Linked DNA regions of Homo sapiens: region 1 is linked to region 2. Evidence: fine-mapped expression QTL. A gene starts in region 2. The other region holds a variant in brackets. All regions are shown on one strand. Distances are between the middles of the regions. Region 1 overlaps LOC101927143 (a long non-coding RNA gene). Region 2 holds the start of DEGS1 (delta 4-desaturase, sphingolipid 1).

Region 1 (9,955 bases), 22 kb before region 2:
CAGTTGGCCTGGGCAGGGAACAATGTGTGATTAAGCAGTGAAGGGGATAAGGGACAAATTCCGGGAGCCCTGCTTATCTCTGCTGGAATTACTGTACTGCAGGTCTCAAATCCTGAAGGATCCTGTATTTGTTTTCACCTGGAACCTGGACCACATTCAGGTGGCAGATTAAAATTAAGCCAAGTTCATTCCAGGCCATCCTAATGATTTTTTAATTAGCATCAGTGCACAGTGTAGTAATTTGCAGTTCATAGTCCACTTGTAAGTTGAAATTAGAAACTGCAAGGACAGTAATATAAGTGGGAGGAGAGATTTCATTAATCCCGTCAACAAATATTTATTGACTGCAGCTGTGCTAGTGGGTAATGATAATACAGCTAAGAGCCAAAACAAAGTTCCTCCCCTATGGGCCTTTCTTTCCAGTGGGAAGAGGGTACAGGGTACAGTCAATAAATCCAAATATATATATTTATGTATGCACACAGATATATATATAAAACAAGTGGAATGTGCTGTGAAGAAGAAGCAGGGTAAGGCTCTGGAAAGGGCCAAGGGTGTGCGTGAGTGGGGTGGTTACTGTATAGAGATTGGCCACGCCGGGTGCAGTGGCTCACGCCTGTAATCCCAGCACTTTGGGAGGCCGAGGTGGGCGGATCACCTGAGGTCTGGAGTTCGAGACCAGCCTGACCAACATGGAGAAACCCCATCTCTACTAAAAATACAAAATTAGCCAAGCGTGGTGGCGCATGCCTGTAATTCCAGCTACTCGGGAGGCTGAGGCAGGAGAATGGCTTGAACCCGGGAGGCAGAGGTTGCTGTGAGCTGAGATCGTGCCATTGCACTCCAGCCTGGGCAATAAGAGTGAAACTCCCTCTCAAAAAAAAAAAAAAAAAAAAAAAGAGAGATTGGCCAGGAAAGGCCTCTGGCAAGATGATCTCTGAAGGAAGTGAGAGTAAGTGGTGCAGCTTTTGGGAGGAAGATAGTGCTGGGCAGAGGGAAGAGCAAAGGCTACGTCTCTGCATTCCAAGATTACAAATAGAGGGTAACATTCACCCTCCACCCCTCAACGCCTCTTTCCTGTGACCTTCGGGAGCTGCAGAACTTCAGTGTCCATCAGTCAGAGGCAATGCCCCTGACCCAGACGCCTCTAGTTGAGAGATAGACAGAGCTGGATTTATAGCACCACAGACCTGACCTGGAATGAGACTTGCAAGTATGTCAGGGAGCTGCACGCTAACCTAGGAAGAGGCTGGCCAGGTACCATTTTCTGTATGGTTATGATGAAGCAGCTGGTACAAATGTTAGGGGACAGTGGCACATGGTGGGGGAAAAGCCCAGCGCTCAGCTTCTGGTCTGGCTTTTCTACCTTAGGACCTTTTACTGTGGTCTGTGGGTCTTGGGGTCTGTGGGTCTTGGGGTCTGTGATTGGATAAATGAAGGTAAGTAGACTGGGAAGGACAGAACAGGGAACACAGATCTGCTTTGGCCGGGCATGGGTGGCTCAAGCCTGTAACCCCAGCACTCATAATGACTTACAAAAGCATTCATTCATAACTTACAAAAGCATTCATAATGGTGGCCTTTGAGAGCTGGGATTATGGACAACTTATATACCTTTTTGCTACTTTTATGTGAATTTCTACAAATTACTTTTTTTTCTTTTTGAGACAGGGTCTGGCTCTGTCGCCCAGGCTGGAGTACAGGGGCATGATCTCAGTTCACTGAACCCTCCTGGGTTCAAGCAATCCTCCTGCCTTAGCCTCCCAAGTATCTGGGACGACAGGTGTGCTCCACCACGCCTGGCTAATTTTTCTATTTTTAGTAGAGATGGGGTTTCGCTATGTTGGCCAGGCTGGTCTTGAACTCCCGACTGCAAGTGATCCACCTGCCTCGGCCTCCCAAAGTGCTGGGATAACAGGCATGAGCCACTGTACCTGGCCTACAAATTACTTTAGCAACAGAAAAAGAAGGTGAGCAAAGTTATGCACAAGTGTATTAACAAACTGCTCTCCTGTACCTAAATCAGTCATTCCTTTTTTTGAGACAGAGTTTCACTCTTGTTGCCCAGGCTGGAGTGCAATGGCATGATCTCTGCTCACCACAACTTCCGCCTCCTGGGTTCAAGTGATTCTCCTGCCATGCCCGGCTAATTTTGTATTTTTAGTAGAGACGGGGTTTCTCCATGTTGGTCAGGCTGGTCTCAAACTCCCAATCTCAGGTGATGCGCCCGCCTCAGCCTCCCAAAGTGCTGGGATTACAGGCGCGAGCCACTGCACCCGGCCACTAAATCAGTCATTCTATCCAGTTCCTTGCATTTACTCCTTTCTTGTGCTAACCCACAGCCAGTACTTAAGAGTATTTAAGTCCTCTCTCCTTTCATGAGTCACTCCTTTTTGTCTTGTGACTATACTTGGAAAAATTTTATTATTCATTCATTTATTTATTTATTTATTTATTTATTTATTTATTTATTTATTTATTTTTAGATGGAATCTTGCTCTGTTGCCCAGGCTAGAATGCAGTGGCGTGATCTTGGCTCACCAAAAATTCTGCCTCCTGGGTTCAAGTGCCTCCACACCCAGCTAATTTTGTATTTTTAGTAGAGACGAGATTTCACCATGTTGGCCAGGCTAGTCTTGAACTCCTGACATTGTGATCCACCCACCTCAGCCTCCCAAAGTGCTAAGATTACAGGTGTGAGCCACCATGCCCGGCCTACCTGGAGCATTATTAAAACCTTAAACCTTTAAATTTTTCATCATTGTGCTTTGTTTCCTTAAAGATTAGGAAAGGGATTGTCAGCGGATAAGACTTGCCCTCTTCTGCTGCTCTCTAGCCGTGGGCAAGTTCCTTCCACTCACTGTGTGTCATTTTCTTCATCTGTAAACACAGGATAATAGTAACAACACCTCTCTCCTAGGGCCTGGACGGGGCATGCCAGTAAGGGGTCCTGAAGCTTAGGCCCCTGGGATTTGGATAGAGAAAGTCATGGTGAAGGTGGGTGTGACATTGGTGAGGTGGCATTGGACACCCTTCAGGGCCTCTCCTGTCCTCTGTACACTCCAGACAGTGCCCATTTGTGCAGAGGCTGTCCTGGGTCTCTGCCTGAGGGCTTTCTCTGCTCCTCTACCCCAGACCAATCCGAAGTGTCCCCACGAGCAACCTTCAACCAAAGAGGGACAGGAGTCGGTGAACATGCACCTCAGCCTCCTCACCTCTCCGAGGAACTTTAAAAAAATCTTGTATTGGCTGCATGGCAGAGATGGGGGGATTGCTTGAGCCTATGAGTTCACAACCAGGCCTAGGAACATAGTGAGACCTCCCTCTTCCCTCGGCCCAACCCGCCAACACCCCCATCTCTACAGAAAATTTTAAAATTAGCCAGGCTTCGTGGTGGGAACCGTAAAAATCTAAGAAGGGTCTCAGTTAATTTAGAAAGTTTATTTTTGGCTGGGAGCAGCAGCCCACACCTGTAATCCCAACACTTTGGGAGACCGAGGCAGGCGGATCACTTGAGACCAGTTCATGACAGCCTCAGGAGGTCCTGATGACATGTGCCCAGGTAGTGGGGGCACAGCTTGGTTTTATTTTTATTTTTTACTTTTTAAATTATTATTATTTTTTTGAGACGGAGCCTTGCTCTGTCATCCAGGCTGGAGTGTAGTAGCATGATCATGGCTCACTGTAACCTCCGCCTCCTGGATTCAAGCGATCCTCCTGCCTCAGCCTCCCAGGTAGCTGGGATTACAGGCACATGACACCACACCCGTCTCATTTTTGTATTTTTTAGTAGAGATGGGTTTTCACCATGTTGGTCAGGCTGGTCTTGAACTCCTGACCTCAGGTGATCTGCCTGCCTTGGCCTCCCAAAGTGCTGGGATTACAGGCGTAAGCCACCACGCCCGGCCACACAGCTTGGTTTTTTCTTTTTTTTTTTTTTTGAGACGGAGTTTCGCTCTTTCACCCAGGCTGGAATGAAGTGGTGTGATCTCAGCTCACTGCAGCCTCTGCCCCCCAGGCTCAAGCGATTCTCCTCCCTCAGCCTCCCGAGTAGCTGTGATAACAGGTGCCCGCCACCACGCCCGGCTAATTTTTGTATTTTTAGTACAGACGGGGTTTCACCACATTGGCCAGGCTGGTCTCAAACTCCTGACCTCAGGTGATCCATCTGCCTCGGTCTCTCAAAGTGCTAGGATTACAGGCGTGAGCCACCGCGCCAGCCAACAGCTTGGTTTTATACATTTTAGGGAGACATGAGAAGTCAATCAATGTAATATGTACATTGGTTCTGTCCGGAAAGGTGGGACAACTCAAGCAGGGAGAGGGTTTCCAGGTGACAGGTAGGTGAGAGACAAAGGGTTGCATTCTTTTGACTTTCTGATTAGCCTTTCCAAAGGAGGCAATCAGATATGCATCTATCTCAGTAAGCAGAGGAATGACTTCCTAATTTTTTTTTTTTTTTGAGACGGACTCTTGCTCTATCACCCAGGCTGGAGTGCAGTGGCATGATCTCCGCTCACTGCAAGCTCCACCTCCTGGGTTCACGCCATTCTCCTGTCTCAGCTTCCCGAGTAGCTGGGACTACAGGCACCTGCCACCATGCCCGGCTAATTTTTTGTATTTTTAGTAGAGATGGGGTTTCACCATGTTAGCCAGGATGGTCTCAATCTCCTTACCTCGTGATCTGCCTGCCTCGGCCTCCCAAAGTGCTGGGATTACAGGCATGAGCCACCTGCCCAGCTGAGCAGAGAAATGACTTTCAACAGAATGGGAGGTAGGTTTGTCCTAGCAGTTCCCATCTTGACTTTTCCCTTTAGCTTAGTGCTTTTAGGGCTCCAAGGTTTATTTTTCTTTCACAGTGGCATATGCCTGTAGTATCAGCTGAGGTAGGAGGATCATTGGAGCCTGGGAGGTCAAGGCTGCACTTAGTGATTACGCTATTGCACACCAGCCTGGGTGACAGAGTGAGACTCTCTCAAAAAACAAAAAATGGCCAGGCATGGTGGCTCTCACCTGTAATCCCAGTCCTTTGGGAGGCCAAGACAGGCGGATCACCTGGGGTTGGGAGTTTGAGACCAGCCTGGCCAACATGGTAAAACCCCATCTCTACTAAAAAAATACCAGAATTAGCCAGGCATGGTGGCAGGTGCCTGTAATCCCAGCTACTCAGGAGGCTGAGGCAGGAGAATCGCTGGAACCTGGGAGGCGGAGGTTGCAGTGAGCCGAGATCGTACCATTGCACTCCAGCCTGGGTGACGGAGCGAGACTCTGTCTCAAAAAACACAAAACACAAAACAAAAAATCTTGTATTGTAAAATCCAGATACAGAAAAATACACAGAGCAAACGTGCAGCTTAATGAATTACTCCAAGGCAAACACCTCTGTAACCATTGGTGGGACATTGCGAGAGCTCTCAGGAGTCCTGGGGAATGAGCTCCAGTTGCCTACAGTGGTTACCTGCTCCTTAAGTGACACACGCTTTACTGGCCTGCTTTTTTGGATTTCCTTTTCTCACTCATTTCAGGATCACCTTCCAAATAAGCCATATACCCAAATTCTCATCTCAGGGTCAGTTTTTGGTGAAACTAGAAATCAGGCCGTTTCTAAGGAAGTCTTCTTTAAAGAGGTGGCATTTGAGCTGAGAGCTGATTATTGAGAGGGAGGTGGCTCTGTGAGCTCTGGTCTAGTGTCTACGCAGAGGACACCAAGCAGGCCCTGGGACACAGCAATCCTGAGTGTGTTTGGAGCAGAAAGCAGCCCATGGTGGCTGGACCACAGGGAGAGATGGCCTGGGAGAGTCAGGCAGGAGCCTAATCATATGGTTTACAGCCCTGCGTGTGTGTGTTGGGGTTGGGGGGGGGGGGCTGGGTGTGTGTATGTGAGCAACGTGTGAGTCATGTGGGATGGGAGGCCCCCTTGCACTTTCCTTCTCAGCCCCTTGCCACCTGACATCCACACTCACACATCCTCACAGGCAGTTCCGTTTT[G/T]AAAACCTGATTTCATGTGGCCAGTCCAGTCTTAGGACAAATATATATTCATAGAAGGCAATTTAAAAAGCCAAGTCGGCCGGGCGCGGTGGCTCACGCCTGTAATCCCAGCACTTTGGGAGGCCGAGGCGGGCGGATCACGAGGTCAGGAGATCGAGACCATCCCGGCTAACACGGTGAAACCCCGTCTCTACTAAAAATACAAAAAATTAGCCGGGCGTGGTGGCGGGCGCCTGTAGTCCCAGCTACTCGGGAGGCTGAGGCAGGAGAATGGCGTGAACCCGGGAGGCGGAGCTTGCAGTGAGCCGAGATCCCGCCACTGCACTCCAGCCTGGGTGACGGAGCGAGACTCCGTCTCAAAAAAAAAAAAAAAAAAAAAAAAGCCAAGTCATCTCAACCCGAGCTACACTAGATGCACGGCTGTGTCAGTTACCAGAGTCCAGCTCGGTGTTGGCTAATAGTGGAAGCACAACTTCCATTGCCAAAGCTCAGAGACAGAAACTCCGGAGATGGAGCAGGCAGATAAGTGTGTGGCTGGCGCAGAGCCAGGCCCTCGGAGATGACGAGCATGTCTCTCACCAGCCCCTTCTGCAGTGAGTGGCTGTCCCACGGGTCTCTCCAGCTGCCAGGGGAGAATGAATTAGGGTGTTGAGAATTACCCAAACCCAAGGCTGGGGAGGGTGTGACTCCATCTAGGCCAGTCCTTGTCTTTGCTAATCCAGCATGACCCAGGCCTGCTGTGGAATATTTTGGAATATATTGGAATATTTGGAATATATTGACAGTGCAAGTTAAGAGTTTTGTTGATTAAAAAAAAAATACTCAAGTCAAATTTATAGAAACAGAAAGTAAAGTGCTAGTTGCCAGGGGCTGGGGGAGGGAAAATAGGGAGCTGTTTAATGAGCATGGAATTTCGGTTTTTCTTTTTTCCTTCTTCTTCTTTTTATTTTTTTTTTCTTTTTCTTTCATTTTTTTATTTTTATTTTTTGAATCTCAGATTTTCAAGATGAAAAGTTCTGGAGATAGGTTGCATAACAATGTGAATGTATGTAATACTCCTGAACTGGACACGTGAAAATGGTAACAATGGGCTGGGTGCGTTGGCTAATGCCTGTAATCCCAGCACTTTGGGAGGCCGAGGCGGGTGGATCACCTGAGGTCAGGAGTTTGAGACCAGCCTGACCATATATGGTGAAACCCCATCTCTACTAAAAATACAAAAAAAAATTAGCCAGGTGCAGTGGTGGGCGCCTGTAATCCCATCTACTTGGGAGGCTGAGGCAGGAGAATTGCTTGAACCCGGGAGGCAGAGGTTGCAGTGAGCTGAGATTGCACCATTGCACTCCAGCCTGGGCAACAGAGTGAGACTCTGTCTCAAAAAGAGAAAAAAAAAATGGTAACAATGGTGTATTTTATGTTCTTTGTATTCTATGATAATTTTTTTTTTTATTTCTTAAAAAATAAACTCAGACAATAGTTTGGGCAGCAAGCACCGACTGCCATGGTTTGGAACAAGTGTGACCTGTGCTCTGACTGCTGGCACTGTCCCAAATGACTGACTCCTGTAGCTTGGTGTTCCCAGTGGCATCAGTAACCAGCATTACCACAACCCCTGCAGTGAGTGACAGTGCTTTTCCCATCTGATTTCCAAGGCATCTCAAGGTCCCGGGAGGGAGGTAAGAAAAGATAGACAAGATAGATAAAGGAAACCAGCCCAGGGAAGGTAATTTGCTTCAGTCACACTGGCAACACAACCTGTCTTTCTTTCCTGTCCCTGGCTCTGAGATGCCTAAGGGGCTGCACTCCCAAGTCGGGGTTCTTCCTGGGCCCCCGGCCACCGGGTTTGACACCGGTGGCTTATTAAACAGCTGCTCATCATCCCCTGGTCATGAGGAGGGGGAGTCAGTGACTTGAGGCACTCACAACATCCAGATTCCTTTTGGCAAACAGGACCCCAGGCCGAGGAGTTCTGCTTGCTTGTCCTGGGATGGCCATCTGATGATCTCAGCTGGGCTTTGCAGAGTGCTGTGGTTTGGAGAACTGTTTCTGAGCCAGCTCTGAAAACTATTTGGTTAAATGTGAGCTCCAGGCCACAGACTCCTGTTCCTGCTTTCAATTCTGCATTCTCCTGACCATTGGAGTGTGGAAGTAGCTTGGGGTGTTCATGGGCTGCCCCTCCCCCAACCCACACACTCACCCTCACTGAGAGCCACTGCTTGGCCTGCTGCCTGTGTTCCTGGGAGTGGGACGGTTCATATTATCATTAGAAAACCCCATCAGTTATACTAAGTAGAAAGCGGGCTCTGAATTTGAGGAAAATTATCATTGTAAAATCCTTTTTAAGAAATACAAACTTTGGGCCGGGCATAGTGGTTCACGCCTGTAATCCCAGCACTTTGGGAGGTTGAGGTGGGCAGATCACCTGAGATCAGGAGTTCGAGGCCAACGTCATGAAACCCCATCTCTACTAAAAATACAAAAACTAGACAGGCGTGGTGGCATGCACCTGTAGTCCCAGCTACTCGGGAGGCTAAGGTGGGAGAATCGCTTGAACCCGGGAGATGGAGGCTGCAATGAGCAGAGATCGCGCCACTGTACTCCAGCCTGGGCTATTGAGTGAGACTCCATCTCAAAAAAAAAAAAAAAAACACAAATATTGGCCAGGTGTAGTGGCTCACTCCTGTAATCCCAGCACTTGGGAGGCTGAGATGGGAGGATTGCTTGAGGCCAGGAATTTAAGAGTTCAAGGCCTTTCTCTTAGCCAGGCTCAGTGGCTCACACCTGTAATCCCAGCACTTTGGGAGGCCGAGGCAGGTAGATCACTTGAGGTCAGGAGTTCGAGACCAGCCTGGTCGACATGGTGAAACCTGTCTCTACTAAAAATACAAAAATTAGCCAGCCAGGTGTGGTGGCGGGTGCCTGTAATCCCAGCTACTCGGGAGGCTGAGGGAGGAGAATTGCTTGAACCTGGGAGGCAGAGGTTGCAGTGAGCCGAGATCGTGCCATTGCACTTCAGCCTGGGCAACAAGAGCTAAAGGAAACTCTGTCTCAACAACAACAACAACAAAGAGTTCACGAGCAGTCTGGGCAACATAGTGAGCCCGGACCCAGTCTCTTTTTTTTTTTTTTTTTTTTTGAGACACAGTCTCCCTGTGTCACCCAGGCTGGAGTGCAGGGGCGCAATCTCGGCTCCCTGCAACCTCCTCCTACCAGGTTCAAGCAATTATCCTGCCTCAGCCTCCCAAGTAGCTGGGATTACAGGTGCACGCTATCATACCCAGTTAATTTTTTGTATTTTTACTAGAGATGGGGTTTCACTGTGTTGGCCAGGCTGGTCTTGAACTCCTGGCCTCAAGTGATCAACTCACCTTGGCCTCCCAAAGTCCTGGGATTACAGGCATGAGCCACCACGCCCGGCCTGGTCTCTTTTTAATTAAAAAAAGAAAAAGAAAAATGCAATGTCATGGACTTTGTAGACATTGGGTTAGAATTTTGGCTGCATGACTTTAGACAAGTTACTTATTCCTTCCTATTAGTTTATTTTCTTGGCTGCAAAATGAGGATAATACCAATGTAAGGATGAAACAGTCCATAAAGAGATGAGCACAGGCCCCGGCACTTGGCAGGAGCCCCATCAATATTGTCAGCTCCCAGTTAGGATTCTCTAGGAATAACCAGACTCGTTGTATGCATTGTCCTTTGGTTCTCAAAAACAGTTTGGCCTCTTAGTATAGAATTCTGTGAGGTAGGTTAAAGTTCTTCTTACGTCCTTGCTTATGTTATTAATTTACTCAGCAAACTTTCCCAGATCCAAGGTAACCTTTAGAGCAGTCAGGTACAAATGGGTCTGGAGCAATGTTACTCTCTTCCCTGGCAGTGCAGTCATGAGCCTGAGCTGGCTGCAGAGAAGAGCTCACTGCATCTCCCTGGAATGTGGGGAGTTGACTGGGGAGTGGATGGGGCCCAG
Region 2 (9,955 bases):
ACAGGCAAAAGAATGGATTCAGACCCCTACCTTACACCATACACAAAAATGAACTCAAAACAGATCACAGACCCAAATTTATAAGAAAATTATAAAACTCTGATAAGAAAACATAGAAATAAATCTTCATGGCCTTTGTGGTTTCTTAGATACTATAACAAGTACAAGTGACAAAAGAAAACAGAGAAATCGGACAGCATCAAAAACTTTCTGTTGCACATGATACTGTCAAGAAAGTAAAAAGACAATCCACAGAAGCGGGGTTATGTTTGCAAATCATGTATCTCATAAGGGACCTATATCCAGAATATATGAAGAACTCTTACAACTAATAATCCAATTAAAAAATGGGCAAAGGATCTGAACCCACTTTTCTCCAAAAGATACGGAAACAGTCAAGAAACACATGAAAGAGGCTCAACACCGTTAGTCATTAGGAAAGTGCAAACTGAAACCATAGATACCACCTCACACTCACTAGGATGACTATAATAAAAAAAGGTAGGTAAAAACAAGGATGTGGAGAAATTAGAACCCTCATACTTTGCTAGTGGGAATATAAAATGGTGCAGCTGCTTTGGAAAACTGTACAGCAGTTCCTCAAAATGTTAAACACCTGGTATATCCATACAAAGGAATATTATTCAGCCAGAAAAAGGAATCATACACTGACATATGCTATAACATGAATGAACCTTAAAATATTATTTTATTGAAATATTATTTTATTGAAAATATATTATTTTAATGAACCTTAAAATATTTAGAGACAGGGTCTACCTCTGTCACTCAGGCTGAAGTACAGTGATGCCATCATAGCTCACTACAGCCTCAAACTCCTGGACTCAAGTGATCCTCCTGCCTCAGTCACCCTAGTAGCTGGGACTACAGGAGCATGCCACTGTGCCCAGCTAAAATATTATGCTAATGGCTGGGTGCAGTGGCTCACACCTATAATGCCAGCACTCTGAGAGGCCAAGGCAGGAGGATCACTTGAGCCCAGGAATTCAAGATCAGCCTGGGCAACATAACAGGACCCTGTCTCTACAAATTAAAAAAAAAAAAAAATTTATATTATGCTAAGTAAAAGCCAATCATAAAAGATCAGGTATTTTATGATTTCATGTATATGAAATGTCCAGAATAAGCAAATCTATAGGCCACAAAGTAGATTAGTGGTTACCTAGGTAGAAGCAGGGGATATGAGGGACTGCTAATGAGTATAGGGTTTCTTTTGGTGATGATGAAATGTTCTAAGGTTATATGGTGGTGACAGCTGCACAACTCTGTGAATATACTAAAAAATACTGAACTGTACACTTTAAATGAATAAATCATGATAGTTGAATTATAATCTCAATAAAGCTATTGGCCAGGTGCTGTGGCTCACACCATTAATCCAGCACTTTGGGAGGCTGAGGCACAAAGACTGCCTGAGGCCCAGTGTTCAAGACCAGCCTGGGCAAACAGATTCTATTTCTACCAAAAATAAAAAAAATTAGCCAGGTGAGGTGGCACAAGCCTGTAGTCCCAGCTACTTAGGATGCTGAAGCGGGAGCATCACTTGAGCCCAAGAATTTATGATCACACCACTGCACTCCAGCCTGGGCAACACAGTGAGACTCTCTCTCAAAAAATAAAACATTAAAAAGCTGTATCATGTTAAAGTATAACAGTGAAGGAACCATTTCTTGTGATTTATTCTTTTTTTTTTTTGAGACGGAGTCTCGCTCTGTTGCCCAGGCTGGAGTGCAATGGTGAGATCTCAGCTCACTGCACCCTCTGCCTCCTGGGTTCAAGCAATTCTCCTGCCTCAGCCTTCCCAGTAGCTGGGATTACAGGCGCCCACCACCACACCCAGCTAATTTTTGTATTTTTAGTAGAGACGGGGTTTCACCATGTTGGCCAGACTGGTCTTGAACTCCTGACCTCAGGTGACCTGTCCACCTCAGCCACCCAAGGGCTGGGATTACAGCCATGAGCCACCCAGCCCAGCTCATCCTCACGAATTTCAAACAGATGCCTTGTAAATGAACTTTTAATGTGAACTCTAAATGTAAACTTAAAGTGTACAATTGTTGGTTGTTCTATCAGGCCCCTTCCCTCCCCCGCCAAAAAGTCAATACTTTCAGAAAGATCTCTTATCATTTGTGTATAATTTAAACAAATCTAAAGATTCTTTCTACAGGTTATTCCATCTCCCACCCTGAAACAGAACATGAGTTAGTATTTACACCTGCATGGAAAACATTGTACACTGTATTTTCATTGAGAAATATGTAGTCCTTCTTTTTTTTTTTTTTTTTTTTTTGAGACGGAGGCTCACTCTGTCGCCCAGGCTGGAGTGCAGTGGCACCATCTCAGCTCACTGCAAGCTCTGCCTCCCGGGTTCACGCCATTCTCCTGCCTCGGCCTCCTGAGTAGTTGGGACTACAGGTGGCTGCCGCCACGCCCGGCTAATTTTTTGTATTTTTAGTAGAGATGGGGTTTCACCGTGTTAGCCAGGATGGTCTCGATCTCCTGACCTCATGATCCGCCCACCTTAGCCTCCTAAAGTGCTGGGATTACAGGCGTGAGCCACCATGCCCGGCCAAGAAATATGTGGTCCTTTTACTTTCCCAGTGAAATGGTTCAGTGATAAGTCTGTGGGGGGAAAAAAGGCTCAGTGTGAGGTAAGTATCAATCAGCACCTTCTCACTTCCTTCATCTCTTTTTCTTGAGACAGTCTCACTCTGTTGCCCAGGCTGGAACGCGGTGGGGCAATCACGGCTCACTGCAGCCTCTACCTCCCCAGCTCAAGCAATCCTCCCACCTCAGCCTTCTGTGTAGCTGGGACCACAGGCACATGCCACCATGTCCCGCTAATTAAATTTTTTTTTTTTTGGTAGAGATGGGGTTTTGCCATGTTGCCCAGGTTGGCCTCGAACTCCTGAGTTCAAGTGTTCCTCTCGCCTCAGCCTTCTGAGTAGCGGGACAGGCATGCACGCCTAGCTAATTTTTTAATTTCTCGTGCAGATGGGGCTGTTCTGAACTGGCCTCAAGCGATCTTCTTGCCTCAGCTTCTCAAAGTGCTCGGATTACAGGCAAAAAAAAGCCACCACACCCGTCCTGATTTTCAGAATATTAAGTAGCTCAGTTTCAGTATTCCAGAGTTGGTTTTTACACAGGTAGGACGCTAGATTATTCCTATGTAACATGTAGATAAGGCATTGATAAAATATATCATATGTGGCCTGGCAGGGTGGCTCACGCCTGTAATCCCAGGACTTTGGGAGGCCATGGCAGGCGCATCATCTGAGACCAGCCTGGCCAATGTGGCAAAACCCTGTCTCTACTAAAAATAAAAATAGAAAAACTTAGCCAGGTATGGTGGCGGGCGTCTGTAATCCCAGGTACTCGGGAGACTGGGGCAGGCAGAACTGCTTGAACCCAGGAGGGAGAGGTTGCAGTGAGCCGAGACTGGGCCACTGCACTCCAGCCTGGGTGACAGAGTGCGGCTCCGTCTCAAAAAAGTATCATGCTATCTCATATCAAGTATGTGTAAGTGATGTGCCAAACAAATTGCTACTGGCAGGCTGAGGTATGCGGACCACTGGAGCCCAGGCTGCAGTGATCATCATGCCTGTGAACAACCACCGCACTCCAGCTTGGGCAACAAAGCAAGACCCTTTCTCTAATGGAGTGTAGGGGAGGAGGAAGAAGAGGAGGAAGGGAATTCAAGAACCCAAAGTTACCGGGTGCAGTGGCTTACGCCTTTAAAATCCCAGCACTTTGGGAGGCCAAAGCGGACAGATTGCTTGAGCCCAGGAGTTCAAGACCAGCCTGGGCAACACGGAGAAACCCATCTCTACAAAAAATAGAAAAATCAACCAGGCATGGTGGTGTGCGCTTGTGGTCCCAGCTACTTGCTTTTTCTTTTCACTGGGCAAATGAATGTTGAGAAGAAAAACTAAGGAAATACTATATATAAGGAATAATTGCTCATGTTCAACTCACCGTTTCCTCAATTTAAAAAAAGTGTGTGTGTGTGTGTGTGTGTGTGTGTGTGTGTGTAAACGGGGGGCTCTCACTATGTTACTCAGGATGGTCTCAAACTTCTGGGCTGAAGCGATCCTCCCGCCTCAGCCTCCCGAAGTGCTAGGATTACAGGCCTGAGCTACCGTGACCGGTCCCCGTTTCCTCAACAGAGGTTAAAAAGCTCGTGCTCTGGCCGGGCACGGTGGTTCACGCCTGTAATCCCAAAACTTCGGGAGGCCAAGGCGGGCGGATCACCTGAGGTCAGGAGTTCGAGATAAGCCTGGCCAACATGGTGAAACCCCGTCTCTAACTAAAAAAGATACAAACATTAGCCAGGCGTAGTGGTGGGAACCTGTAATCCCAGCTACTCGGGAGGCTGAGACAGAAGAATCGCTTGAACCCAGGAGGCAGAGGTTGCAGCGAGTGGAGATCGCGCCACTGCACTCCAGCATGAGCAACAGAGTGAGACTCAGTCTCAAAAAACAAACAAACAAACAAACAAAAAACAAACACGTGCAGTCTCAAAAAACAAACAAACAAAAAACAAACACGTGCTCTGGAAGAGGCAACCGAATGCGCATTAGAATCCCCCTAGCATTTAGTCACGCGTTCTTATTTCATTTTTTAAAACAGCGATAATACCAACCAAGTAGAATTACCAAGAGGATGAAATTGGGTAATGTTTGTAAAGCATTCCACACAATCCCTAGCATATTAGGAGTAGCCTGGGAGAGATGAGCATTCTCTATGTAACACAGAAGGCCCGAATCCTCTGGAGAGTTAAGGCCTCTCAATTAGCTGTCAGGGGACCAGCAGGCCACGCCACATATTTTCCTTATTTGGCAAGTCTTCCATTTTCAGTCTTTTCATCCACAAAACCGAGATGGATGAAAAATGCCTACGAATCCGCCGTTCTTACGTCCCAGGCTTGTCGTGAGGATCAATGGGACAAGCGGCGTGAACCGACCAGGGCCCATCAAGTCCGAGAAGCCCCGGGGGGCATATGGAGGGACGCCGGCCCCCTTAACGGGCCCAAGGCCGGGACTGCGGCCGCCCCCGCCAGTACTGCCCGCCGGCGCCCGACACCCTGAGCAGGGCTCGCTGGTAGGCCCAAGGATGCCCAGGACCACACCCTGCCTAGCACTCAGGCAGCCCCAAGGCCGGCACCCGCTCACCTCGGCCCGCTCCGGAGGAGAGGGAGTGGTGAGAGGAAAGGGCGCCCACCTGAGGGCACAGGAATCTTCTAGCGAAAAGATCTACTCAAGGCTGGCACAGCCGGGGACACCCTTCGCCCCAACCGGCCGGCGTGGGCCTGGCGGGGACTCCCGCGCTCGGGGACGCGCCTGCGCCTCTTCGCGGAAGGGTCGGAGCTGCGCGGCTCCGAGGACCCGTCCCTCCCCCCGCTCCTCGCCCAGCCTCTCCCGCGCTGACCCGCGGGCTGGCGGCCCGAGCGGCGACGGGACGCGACGGGGAGCAGGCTGCTAACGGGCCTCCGGCGCCCACGACCGCGCAGGGCCCGCGAGGGGAGAGCGCGCCCCGGCGCCGGGAGGCCACGCACGCACATAACGGGGCGCCCGCTGGCCCTCACCCAGGATCTCCCGGCGCCGGTCGGCGTGCGGCTGGTCGGTGTAGACCCACTCGAAGTCTTCCCGCGAGACGCGGCTCCCCATGGCGACAGCGGTGGCTTGCAGACTAGCTGTCGGCTCTCGCTCCCAGCCGGCTGCTCAGAGGTGGCGGCGGCGGCGGCGGCTCCCCGGCTGGTGTGGTGTCGGCCGGCTGTGGCGGAGCGCGGAGGAGACGGAGGCGTGGGCGGAGTCCCGAGGCCCCGCCCCCCCCGGCCCGCCCGCCTGCCTCTCTGGGTGGAGGGCGCGTGGCGCTCCCAGGCCCCCGTGCGGGGCCGGCTCTCAGCGATTCTGGGACGCGGGGTTCTGAGCTTCGGTGACTCGGCCACCATCCAGGATGCCGCGTTCTTGCGAGTGCCCGCCCCTGCGGCCTGCTGCGCCGGAGCCCGGAGAAGATGAAAAAGGAAGGAATGGTCTCAAGTGAGATAAACCTGCCGCCCTAACGCCTCCGCGAGGGGAGCACCGGGCACGGCTACGGTCACACCGAGTCTGGAGGCCCCGGAGCCCTTCTTAAATGGCAGCTGGCCTAAGTTTTGTTTAATTTTTAAAAAGCAAATTAGCCATTGAGTCATATTTCGCTGCCTTCTGGAAATAATACCTCAGGGAAAAAATGCAGAGTGCGTGACAATTAAAAGCTAATCAAGTAAAAAGAAAACACCATTATTAAGAGGGGGTGATGATGTGGGATTTGTTGTTGTGCTTGAATTATTCTAGTGTGACCACTTCTGTTAAGAGATGATTGCTCAACCTTGCATCTACCTGTCGCAGAAGTAATCAACCACAACCTCTTCCTGAAAGAAAGGTTTTGAAACGAAACTAATTTTGTTTCAACATTAGTTACCACGTCTACATCAAAGAGCAACTTAAAGATTACAAAAAGAAGATAACCAAAGCAGGTGTGCCTCCTAGTCAAAGAACATGCTGTGCACGCGCACACGGCACACACACACACACAAATCTGATCGAGCCCCTAGATCTGACTGTTAATTTATAGAAAATAGAAAGGACATTTGGCCGGGTGCGGTGGCTCACGTCTGTAATCCTTGCACTCTGTGAGGCAGAGGCGGGTCCATCACCTGAGGTCGGGAGTTCGAGACCAGCCTGATCAGGATGGTGAAACCCCCGTCTCTACTAAAAATATAAAAAAATTAGCTGGGCGTAGTGGCAGGCGCCTGTAATCCCAGCTACTCAGGAGGCTGAGGCAGGGGAATCGCTCGAACTGGGAGGCAGAGGTTGCAGTGAGCTGAGACGGAGCCACTGCACTCCAGCCTGGGGGACAGACGGAGACTCCCTCTCAAGAAAAAAAAAAGAAAATAGAAAGGACAGAGGAATGTGTTAAACTAGGCCGTGGGGATGAAACTAGCAAGATCCAACTCTGGGAGACTATATGGGACAATGTCTGGGTTCTCTAATAAATGAAACTCAAGGCAAAAAAAGAGAAACCTGTAGATTAAAAGGAGTTTAAAAGACATACCAACCAATTGCAACGTGTTGACCTCATTTAGATTCTGATTGAAATAGTTTAAAAACATTGACATGAAATAATTGAACTCAGATATCAATTGGATATGTGATGATATTAAGGAATTATGAATTTCTTAAGTGTGATAATAGTATTATGGTTATAGTGGGTTTTGTTTTTTTTGAGACAGAGTCCTGCTCTGTTGCCCAGGCTGGAGTGCAGTGGTGGCCTCATGTCTCACTTCAGTCTTGACCTGAGCTTAAGCCATCCTCCCACCCCAGTCTCCCGAGGAGCTGGGATCACAGGCGTGCACCACCATGCTTGGCTACTTTTTTGAATTTTTGATAGAGATGGGGCCTCACCTTGTTGCCCAGGCTGGTCTCAAACGCTTGGGCTCAAGTGATCTCAAAGTATTGGGATCACAGGCATGAGCTACTACATCCGACCCCAGGAGCATTATTAATAAGTCCCTAAGACCCTCTCAGTACATTCACTTCTGAAATAGAGAGGGCCAGCACGGCTGAGACATCTAGCAGAGAAGGCTGTGAGAGCAGAGGGGAGACAGAACAGTGACACCTGGAGTGGAGGCCTGAAGGCTGATCAGAGCCCAGCGAGGGTCATGTCTGCAGGGCATGCTAGCAAATGCGTGGCTGGGTCAGCCTCCAGAGGGTCCCAGTCTCGAAAAAGGAGTGGGATTTGATGATGGATAGATACACAGGTCTGATCATGCAGGAGCTTTTTAGTTGTTAATGAAATGGTGGAGGAAAAAGAAGGTGGGGAGTGTCACCTGGAAAAGGACAGCTTTGTATTTGCCAAGTTTCATCTGGATTGGCAGATGGCACATGAAGCTGATAATTGGACTCAACTCAGGAGGAAGTTTTCAGGTGCTGACAAGTAAATGTATCCCTGCAGTTCAGAACGCAGTTGCTATCACAGGCATGTGTGAACTGGCACACCAGTCCAAAAGGTGTGCGGAGGCTTACGTCTGTAGTCTGAGCACTTTGGGAGGCCGAGGTAGGGGGATCGCTTGAGGGCAGGGGTTCGGGACAAGCCTGGGCAACATGGCAAAAACCCACCTCTATAAAAAATACAAAAATTATGCCGGGTATGGTGGCTCATGCCTGTAATCCCAGCACTTTGGGAGGCCAAGGCGGTCTCCAAGGTCAGGAGATCCAGACCATCCTGGCTAACACGGTGAAACCCCATCTCTACTAAAAATACAAAAAAAATTAGCCAGGCATGGTGGGGGGGGCGCCTGTAGCCCCAGCTACTTGGGGGGCTGAGGAAGGAGAATGGCATGAAACCGGGAGGCGGAGCTTGCAGTGAGCCGAGATCGCACCACTGCACTCCAGACTGGGCGACAGAGCAAGACTCCGTCTCAAAAAAAAAAAAAAAAAATTTAACTGGGCGTGGTGGCCCATGTTTGTGGTCCCACCTATTGCTGAGGCTGAGGTGGGAAGATTGCTTGAGCCCAGGAGGTCGAGGCTTCAATGAGCTGAGAAATGAGCTGAGATTGTGGCACTGCACTCTAGCCTGTGTGACAGAGTGAGGCTTTGTCTCAAAAACATTAAAAAATAAAAGAAAGAAAGAAAAATGCAGAGTTTGAAAAAAAATGTGAATCTGGATATACCATTTTTTTTTTCTGAGATGGAGTTGCGCTCTGTTGCCCAGGCTGGAGTGCAGTGTCAAGATCTTGGCTCACTGCAACCTCTGCCTCCTGGGTTCAAGCGATTCTCCTGCCTCACCCTCCCGAGTAGCTGGGATTACAGGTGTGTGCCACCACGTCCAGCAACTTTTTGTATTTTTACTAGAGACGGGGTTTCACCATGTTGGCCAGGCTGGTCTTGAACTCCTGACCTTAAGTGATCTGCCCTTCTTGGCTTCCCAAAGTGCTGGGATTACAGGCATGAGCACCACACCTGGCTTGGACATTCTTTTTTTTTAAAAAAAGTTACAATTCATTTAATAGCAACTGGTAATCATGAAATTTTCTTATTTTGTTTAAACCCTCTTTAAACAAAAGTCTGCAAATTAGCACTGATCATTTGCAAAAGTCATTACATATACTGCCATTTTTCTTAAGGTTGACCAAAGATAACCTAGAATTATAGCCGTTACATAATCACACAAAATGATTATATATTAATCAGACCTGGTTTATCACCAGCATTTATAAAAACAGACGTAGGGAAAGAACTAGGTCTAGGGACACGTACATGGTCTTAATATAGCGACTGTTTATCCTGTCCTGACTATTACAAAATCAATTTTGACATTCTAAAGTAAACTATTTGAGCTACAGGATTGTCATGGGCATTGATAGCTATTTTAATGATGTCTAGGCATGCTTCTTTAATTTGGACTTTTAAAAGTTCTTAATATATACGCGTAATAAAAAAGTAAGCTAAGAAGTATAGCCAGGCATGGTGGCTCACGCCTGTAATTCCAGCACTTTGGGAGGCCGAGGTGGGTGGATCACAAGGTCAGGAGTTCACGACCAGCCTGGCCAAGATGGTGAAACCCCGTCTCTACTAAAAATACAAAAATTAGCTGGGCATGGCGGTGGGTGCTTGTAATCCCAGCTACTTGGGAAGCTGAGGCAGAAAACAGCTTGAACCCGGGAGGCGGAGGTTGCAGTGAGCTGAGATTGCACCACTGCACACTAGCCTGGGCGACAGAGCGAGACTGTCTCAAAAAAAAAAAAAAGAAGTATAAATAAAATGCCTTGAAGTTTTAAAAAAAGATTCTTAATGGATTATCTAGCTTTCACATCTTTTCCTTAACCTTGTCAAATAATTTGTCTTGAAGCAAACATACTAGTTATTCTGGAAAAACGCTCTCCAGTCGGCTGTTG

What was found.
Region 1: its variant is fine-mapped to the expression of DEGS1 in monocytes after LPS (Quach 2016, PIP 0.95).

The regions. Positions count from the first base shown.
Region 1 is chr1:224,201,543-224,211,497 of GRCh38, reverse strand. LOC101927143 (a long non-coding RNA gene) reads left to right here. Exons shown (of 2, transcript NR_110669.1): 2 at 2,487-2,751. Among named protein-coding and RNA genes, the nearest start is that of DEGS1, 23 kb to the right of the region's middle. RefSeq lists an enhancer at 446-615 and a silencer at 6,488-6,537. The variant G/T (reference allele first, on the strand shown) is at 5,989.
Region 2 is chr1:224,179,069-224,189,023 of GRCh38, reverse strand. It overlaps DEGS1 (delta 4-desaturase, sphingolipid 1), which reads right to left and starts at 5,784. Exons shown (of 3, transcript NM_003676.4): 1 at 5,606-5,784. The coding sequence starts at 5,687. It overlaps LOC124900425 (small nucleolar RNA SNORA72), which reads right to left and starts at 9,383; the gene lies at 9,257-9,383. RefSeq lists enhancers at 2,311-2,860, 3,412-3,471, 4,945-5,774, 6,109-6,198, 5,775-6,605 and 1 more and silencers at 3,443-3,737, 5,039-5,118, 5,279-5,658, 5,759-5,958.